2 linked regions of the Homo sapiens genome follow. The protein of the gene in region 2 interacts with the protein of the main gene of each other region in a pairwise test. Each region holds a gene or a part of one and is shown on either strand. Other genes may lie near its edges.

The links. Proteins that work in one complex are often made in the same cells at the same time.
Region 1: the proteins of FOXD4L3 (region 2) and CARD10 interact in binary tests that used the Homo sapiens proteins (3 or more experiments, as listed by UniProt).

The regions. Positions count from the first base shown.
Region 1 is NC_000022.11:37,495,416-37,498,915, reverse strand, and holds part of CARD10 (caspase recruitment domain-containing protein 10), read left to right. Parts: intron 1-1,737; coding exon 1,738-1,897; intron 1,898-2,355; coding exon 2,356-2,467; intron 2,468-2,912; coding exon 2,913-3,156; intron 3,157-3,329; coding exon 3,330-3,399; intron 3,400-3,500. UniProt on the Homo sapiens protein: Scaffold protein that plays an important role in mediating the activation of NF-kappa-B via BCL10 or EGFR.
Region 2 is NC_000009.12:68,301,569-68,305,584, reverse strand, and holds FOXD4L3 (forkhead box protein D4-like 3), read right to left. Parts: upstream 2,719-4,016; 5' UTR 2,634-2,718; coding exon 1,380-2,633; 3' UTR 501-1,379; downstream 1-500.

The DNA.
Region 1 (3,500 bases), on a different chromosome or scaffold from region 2:
CCCCCCCCCCACCCCCCAGCACCCACAGAGGGCAAGGGGTGTCATTGTCAGCTTCGTGTTATGCATGTGGTAACTGACGCTCAGCAGCCGGCTCATTTGCCCAGGCTAGGGTGCAGTTTGCCCTGGGGTTTGGAGCGGACCGTGTGCTCCAGCCACAAAGCCAGGGCCAGCATAGCCAGGCCAGGTCTCAGGCCTGCCCCCTTTCCATGCCACCTCGATGCAGCCAGGACATGCGGCACTGAATGATGCCTCCCATGCCTGCATCTGTCCAGCCCCTCGGCCTGGCTCTGTGTCTTACCTGAGAGGGCGGGGCTGTTCCCCAGCAGTGCCGATTGGGTGGGAGGTCCTTGCAGCCGCGCCCTCCCCAGGCTGGCAGCAGGGGGCAGTGCAGCTGTGTCTGGGCTGCAGCTGCTGGGGTGGATGGAGATGCTTCGCCCCGCTGCCTCTCCAGCCAGCACACCTGCTGACCTTGGTCTCCCCACCTCCTCCAGGCCAAGGTGTCTGGCAGGGGACTTGGGGTCCATTTGTCTCTGAGCCTGGCCACAAGGCCTCACCTTTTCTCATCCAGGGACAGGCAGAACCCTACCATGATGGGGATTTTGGTGACGTCTTAATTGTCAGTGGTCCTCCTGCCCATGGGAGGAAAACCAGACGCCTCTGTTCCACGCCCTCCAAAGGGTGGCTCCAGCTTGCCTTTCCTGGGAGCTGCTTCCCAGGATGTAAAATAAGAATTAGGGCAAGGAGCTCAGCATGGTGTCTGGCACATGGAAAGCACCCAGGAAGTGTTCGCTGCTATTGTTATTATTAAATTCTTCCACGCATCCTGTGTTCTGTCCTCCACACCTTTGCTCTGATATATTCCTTCAGCCTGGAACTCTGTTTCCTCCATCTGTCACCAAAGTGCATCTATTCTTCACCAGCGTGTAGCCTAGGTACTTCTTCCGTGGGAAGCCTCTCTCTGCTTCCACGGCTGGTTGTAACCACCTTTGGATCTGTGCCACGTGCTAATGGTGACCTCCCTCCTCAGACTGTGAGCATAACAAGCTTTTTTTTTTTTTTTTGAGACAGAGTTTCAGTCTTGTTGCCCAGGCTGGAGTGCAGTGGCTCGATCTCGGCTCACTGCAACCTCTGCCTCCTGGGTTCAAGCAATTCTCCTCCCAAGTAGCTGGAATTACAGGCGCCCACCACCACGCCCGGCTAATTTTTTTGTATTTTTAGTAGAGATGGGGTTTCACTATGTTGGCCAGGCTGGTCTCGAACTCCTGACCTCATGATCCGCCTGCCTCGGCCTCCCAAAGTGCTGGGATTACAGGCGTGAGCCACCGTGCTTGGCTATATAACAAGCTTTTATTAGTCATCTGCTATGTGCCAGACACTGGGTTTGGTGCCAGGGCTACAGAGCGGAACAGTATAGAAGTTTGGTCCTGAAGGTGTTCGTTCTGATGGAGGAAACGAAAGGGCCGTGGCAAGGCAAAGTTGGAGTGCTCTGTGGCACGCAGGCTCCACTGCACCGTGTGCCCAGGTCCAGGGGAGAGGCTGCTTGTGACTTGAGATTTGAAGGATGATCAGCATTTCCCAGGTGGAGAAGGCAAGGAAGAGGGCACAGAAGATGGAGAGGCCTGGGGGTGGGAGTCATGGCATACTTGGGAAATGAAATCACTGTGGTTTTCCAAGAATGCTGAACTGAATCCAAGTACTGATTGGACTCCAATTCTCATCTCCTTTCTCCCTTCTCAGGTCTCTGGCTATTCGGGTGTCTGGCCGGAGCCCCCCAGGGGGCCCAGAGCCGCAGGACAAGGGACCAGATGGACTGTCGTTTTATGGGGACAGATGGTCTGGGGCTGTGGTGCGCAGGGTGCTGTCTGGGCCTGGGTCCGCCAGGATGGAACCAAGAGAGGTGAGGCCCTGCCTCCTGAGCTGGGGGGGTAGGGTCAGTGCTTTTGCCCAGGCTGGACATCCCTTAATTTGGTGGATCAAGATCACCGGGCAGAGCTTCTGGGGATTGGTCAAAGCCGAAGCGGGCTCAGTGATTAGCTGTGGTTGCCTGCTCAGCCAGGCTTAATTGAAGTCTGATTGGGCAGGGACTGGGAGGTGGAGCCAACTGACAGCACGTTACATTCCTGCGCTTCAAGTCGAGAAAGACCTGGATGAGCTGGGCGGGTTGGGGAGTCCTGTGGATGGGGGCGTCCTGTGGATGGGGACGGGTCTGACTGGGCTGGGCATGGCAGTTTCTGAGGGGGCGCTATCTGAACTGTGAGGCATGAAACACCCCCACACCTGGTCTTCCTCCAGCCCCTGGGCTGCTCTACTCTCAGAGGCTCACTTCTTTCCCTCCCTGCCTGGGTTTTCTCCCAGCAAAGGGTGGAAGCTGCTGGTCTGGAGGGGGCGTGCCTGGAAGCCGAGGCCCAGCAGAGAACCTTGCTCTGGAATCAGGGGTCCACACTCCCCTCCCTGATGGACTCGAAGGGTAAGTCTGGCTTGGGAGTCGGAGCTGTTGGCCCCAGAGGGGTCCTCTAACCCGTGGTGCATGGGGTGGGGAGGGACCAAGGACCTGAGAAGGGACCAGCCTTGCCCCAATTGCCCTTCTCCTGGCTCCCCGCCTGCTGATGCCTCCTTCTGTCTGTCCTTGTGCCCTTTCTCTATGCCTCCCTCTGTAAGCAGCTTACAGTGAAAGGAGCACTACATTAGGAGTCCAGAGACCTGGGTTTGAGTCCTGGCTCTGTTTCTAGAAGGCACTGGCCTTGGGCAAGTCCCTGCCCCCTCTGGACCTAAGTCATTCTAAGAAGGTGAAGGTCGGGTCCTGGGAACTCAGGCCTCGAGAGGGCCATGTCTTTGGCCCCACCAAGGCCGATCCTGGACCTCACCATCCTCCTCTTGTCCTCCTTGCTGCCCCCTGCCCCATCCATGCCCAGCCTGCCAGTCCTTCCACGAGGCCCTAGAAGCCTGGGCAAAGGGACCAGGTGCCGAGCCCTTCTACATTCGTGCCAACCTCACCTTGCCTGAGAGGGCAGATCCCCATGCCCTTTGCGTGAAAGCCCAAGAGATCCTTCGACTGGTGGACTCGGCATACAAGCGGAGGCAGGAATGGTTCTGCACCCGGGTTGACCCCCTCACTCTGCGGGACCTGGACCGGGGCACCGTGCCCAATTATCAGAGGTGACGCAGAGCCAGGAGCTGGGGATGGGGTCCCCCTGGGAGCCAGGGCTCAGATGGGGGTGCTCTCCCTCCACCTGCATTCCCTCACCATCCTCTGGGACAGGGCGGGGGGTTCGAGGAGAAATGAGGAGCTTTCCTTCTTTCTACACACATGATGTCACTCCCTCCCACAGAGCCCAGCAGCTCCTAGAAGTTCAGGAGAAATGCCTGCCCTCCAGCCGGCACCGAGGCCCCCGCAGTAATGTGAGCACGGCTGGGCAGGTAGTGGGTGGGGGGCCCCAAGGGTGGGGTCCAAAAGGGAGCTAGCAGGCTCTGTTCTCTGGCAACCTAGGAAGACACTCCCT
Region 2 (4,016 bases):
AAATTCATAGCTGGGGGTGGGGAGTAGATGGGGGCTGGGGGAAAAACTTTCTCACATTCACGGAGCAGCTTCCCTCAAAGCGGCACGGAATCGGGAACCCCACTCAGGACAGGGGAAAACGGCCAAGTTCCTAGAAATTTGTTTTCTTTGTGGGGAGCAATTCATGATGGGCGTTCTTGTCTGGTTTCCCCCCACTCCGTCCCCTGACGCCGAGTAACACTTAAACCTTTCTAGTTGCAAAGTCTTTTCAGAGTTGTTTTTTTTTTTAAGAAATAAGTTTTGAAAATTCTAGTGCTTAAAATATATATATATATATATATATATAATTTATAGCCTTTTATTTTCTCTGAGTACATGTTGGCCACTACATTCCAAATTTATCTCAAATGGTTTTCCAGCTTGTTGAGGGGTGATGAAAAATAAATGGAGAATATATTTACATGCCCTCCTATTCTTTTCTTTTAGAAGTCTCATAAATAGTAAATTTCCTATTTTAAAAGCCAGGACATTTTCAACCTCAAATATTTGGAATTTTTAAAGGCCATATTAAAATGGATTACTTCTGCTATCTATAATAAATATGAATTGTGAAAATAAATTGTTTGAGGGAAAATAACGTAGGTTTTAAAAAGTTCCATTTAGAAAGGGAAGAATGAGATGTAATAGAAAATAAACGATGTAGTGTAGTGACTTAGCATTTTATTTCGTCTATATAACTAGGCTTAATTTTAACACCTTAATTTTAACATTAAAGATGGCACGTCAGACACACAGATAAGAAATCAATGTTCTGAAATTAATATCCTACTTACATTAAACATCCCTATCAGGAAGACACAGAGAGTAGAAGCATTTTGCACTAGACTTAGGAATAATACTTCCAGCTCCAAGGAAGTGAAGAAGGGGGAACATGTTTGGCATCGGAGGCTGTGTTTTTGTTTGCTTGCTTGTTTTTCTTTTAATGCCAGAACAAAATACCCCACTCACGTTCATAGTACCCCAGGAAATGCGCAAATCGGGACAGCCATAGAAGCCACAACCGAAGGCAAGAAAAGATGACTTGACGCCCTGCGAAGGTTACGTTCAGGTGGTTTTTAGAGGAACGTAATCCAGCTGTTTCTTTCTAACCATTTTGCAGCGAACAGAAGTTCGTGTTTGCTCTCCAGCGGGATTCAGATGCACACGCCCAGTATGGGCCGCGCAAGGTGGAGTGAGCAGCTGCGGGTCGCTCCCCACTCCCACCTGGCTCTAGGAGGGCCCTGCGGAGTTGGCCAGGGAACTGGGCGTGGGCGATACTAAAAAAACTGGTGAGGTCCCCTCTCCGCCCAAAGGGGCAGCCAGCGATGTCAGCCTAGAGCCCTCTGCCACTGCCTGATACCTCAGCAGGGCCGACGAGGCCGACAGGTGCCCGCCCAGCACCGCGCCCTTGGTGGGAGCGCAGCCGTTGGCGCAGTCCTCCTCCTGATGCTGCTGCTATTGCTGCAAAATTGTCCGAGCAGCGGCGGCGGCGGACACTTGCAGCAAAGGGGCAGCGGTCTGGGGATGCAACAGGCTTGATGGTCGCTGGAGCAGGTGGCAGTAGCTCCACGCGGTCGGGGACAAATTCTGCGCAGCCCCTGTACCCGCTCCCCTGACCCCTTGCATAATACTCTCAATGCTGAAAGAGATGCATCCGCCTCCCGGTGGCGACGCCAGACCCTTGCCCTCCTCCCAAGGCTGAGGACCAAGTGAGGGCTGCAGCACGGGAAGGGTGCCGGGGTCGCCAGGGCCGCGCCTTCTGCTTTCTTCGGTGCCCCGGCATAGACGGGGGCCGAGAGCAGTAGGTAGCGAAGAGGATGCGGGTGCAGCAGAGCGTAAGGGCGTCTCCCGGGGGCGGTGTTGGGGTAGGCCCCCGGGACTGGCTGCGGCGGGGCAGGGGCCCCAAGCAGAGGGCCTGGGCGGGGGTTGTGCAGGGCGGCGTGTGCAGCAGGTAGAGGGAAGGGGTGGGGCAGGTGGGCTCCCGGGGTCAGTTGGTGGCGCTTGAAACGCTTCCTACGCCGGAGAAAGCTGCCATTGTCGAACATGTCTTGGGAGGCGGGGTCCAGGCTCCAGTAGTTGCCCTTGCCTGGGTGGCCCGGCTCGCGGGGGATCTTAACGAAGCAGTCGTTCAGCGAGAGGTTGTGGCGGATGCTGTTCTGCCAGGCGGGGAACTTGCGGCGGTAGTAGGGGAAGCGGCCACTAATGAAGGCGCAGATGCCGCTGAGCGTGAGGCGCTTGTGCGGGTTTTGCAGGATGGCCATGGTGATGAGCGCGATGTACGAGTAGGGGGGCTTTGCCGGCTGCCGGGCATCTTCAGAGGCCGCCGCAGACCTTGGCGGTGCCCTGAACTTGGTGCCAAACTCTGAGGGGTCGCTCGGGCCGCCGCCGCCCTCGATGTGCTCTCGGGGAAGCGCAACCCCGCCCCACCGGGCCACCTGCAGCCCCGGCTGGAGCGACTGCTCTAGGAACTGCTGGCTCGCCGCCTCCTCCTCGTCTTCCACCTCGTCTTCATCTTCCTCCTCTCCCAGGACATCGATTTTACCGTCTTCCCCATCGGAGTCCCGGAGGCTGCGCTGCGGTGTGGAGCGAAGGCGCTCAGCTCTTGGCAGGTTCATGGAGGAGCAGGTGCTTCAGTCGCAGGGGATGTGGCGGCCGATCACCTGGCCTGGGGCGGGCTGAGCTGGAAGCCTGGGATGAATGTTGCAAGAAGCAGGAACGCTAGTGGTTACCCTTTGGGATGTTTTCGTCTGCTTGTTTCTACTCCTTTGCAACAACGTCCGGCAAAGATGCCTTTGCCTTTTATAAAAGCTTCTTCAAGACCATGTGTGGTGGACTCCCCCCTTTATAACCCTTCTTCCCCTACCTCGGAGCGGTGCCACTTCCTCCTAACGTAGTCCAGGGATGATGGTCTTCTGGGCAAACACCCGTCCGGAGAAAAGCCCAGCCCCCTCCTCCTCGCACCCACCTGCCACCAAGGAAGATGCTCTACTCATCCGGTGCAGCCAGACAGTTGGCAAGCCTTTGCACGGGTTCTGTTAAGGCGCATTTAAACCCGCGCAAATAAAAGCGAGGTAGGAAAGTATGATACTCAACATTCTATGACCACCTCAACATGCAGCCTTCCCGCCTGGAGAAAAGAAATGGTGGGGCAGGAGGCTGAAATGTACACGGTTGTTTGTAAAGGAATGTGTAACCGTAAAAGTATGTTTTTGTGTTTCACAGCTGGTAATCACCCATTTTCATTGGTAGAGTCTGTCCTTACCCAGAATGGTGAGCTGAATTATATTTAAGGTTCTGACAATATTCCCAGGCTTCAGGGGGGTGTTGCTTTGCTCCTTCTACCTTCCTTCCCACCTCCTCAAGATGCTCTCCCTGACTCAAATTTTCAGAAAAGGCTCAAATGTCCCAGCACTAAATTGTGTAAGTTTACTCAGGGAAGGCAGGAGAGCTCACACGGAGTCCTCTGTCCCCTTGTAGCAATGGTTCTCCAATTTCTTTGAATATTTAACCACAGAAATACATTTTATATCACAATCTCACACATACAGACATAATACATAACTAAGATGGGTTTCACGAAACAATATACTTACACTATAGTGATCACTGATATTTCCTTTTAAAAAAAAATGGCCATAACCAACTAAATTGATTTCACACATACCAGTATGGGCCCAGTTTGAAAAATCCTGTTCTTACAAAGTGGCCCCACATACAAGAAATGCACCCACTCTATAAGGGCTTCTCTCTCTCCCTTTCCTCCTTCCTTTCTTCATCCTTTATAACCAATTCATTTTTAGAGACAGGGTCTATGTTGCGCAGGCTGGCTTTGAATTCCTGGGCTCAAGTGATCCTCCCGCCTCAGCCTCCTGAGTAGGTGGGACTACAGGCGTGCCACTATGCCTGGCTCTGGCTCTTCATTCTTTTTTTTTTTTTTTTTTTTTTTTTTTTTTTTGAGACGGAGTCGCTCTGTCGCCCAGGCTGGAGTGCAGTGGGGC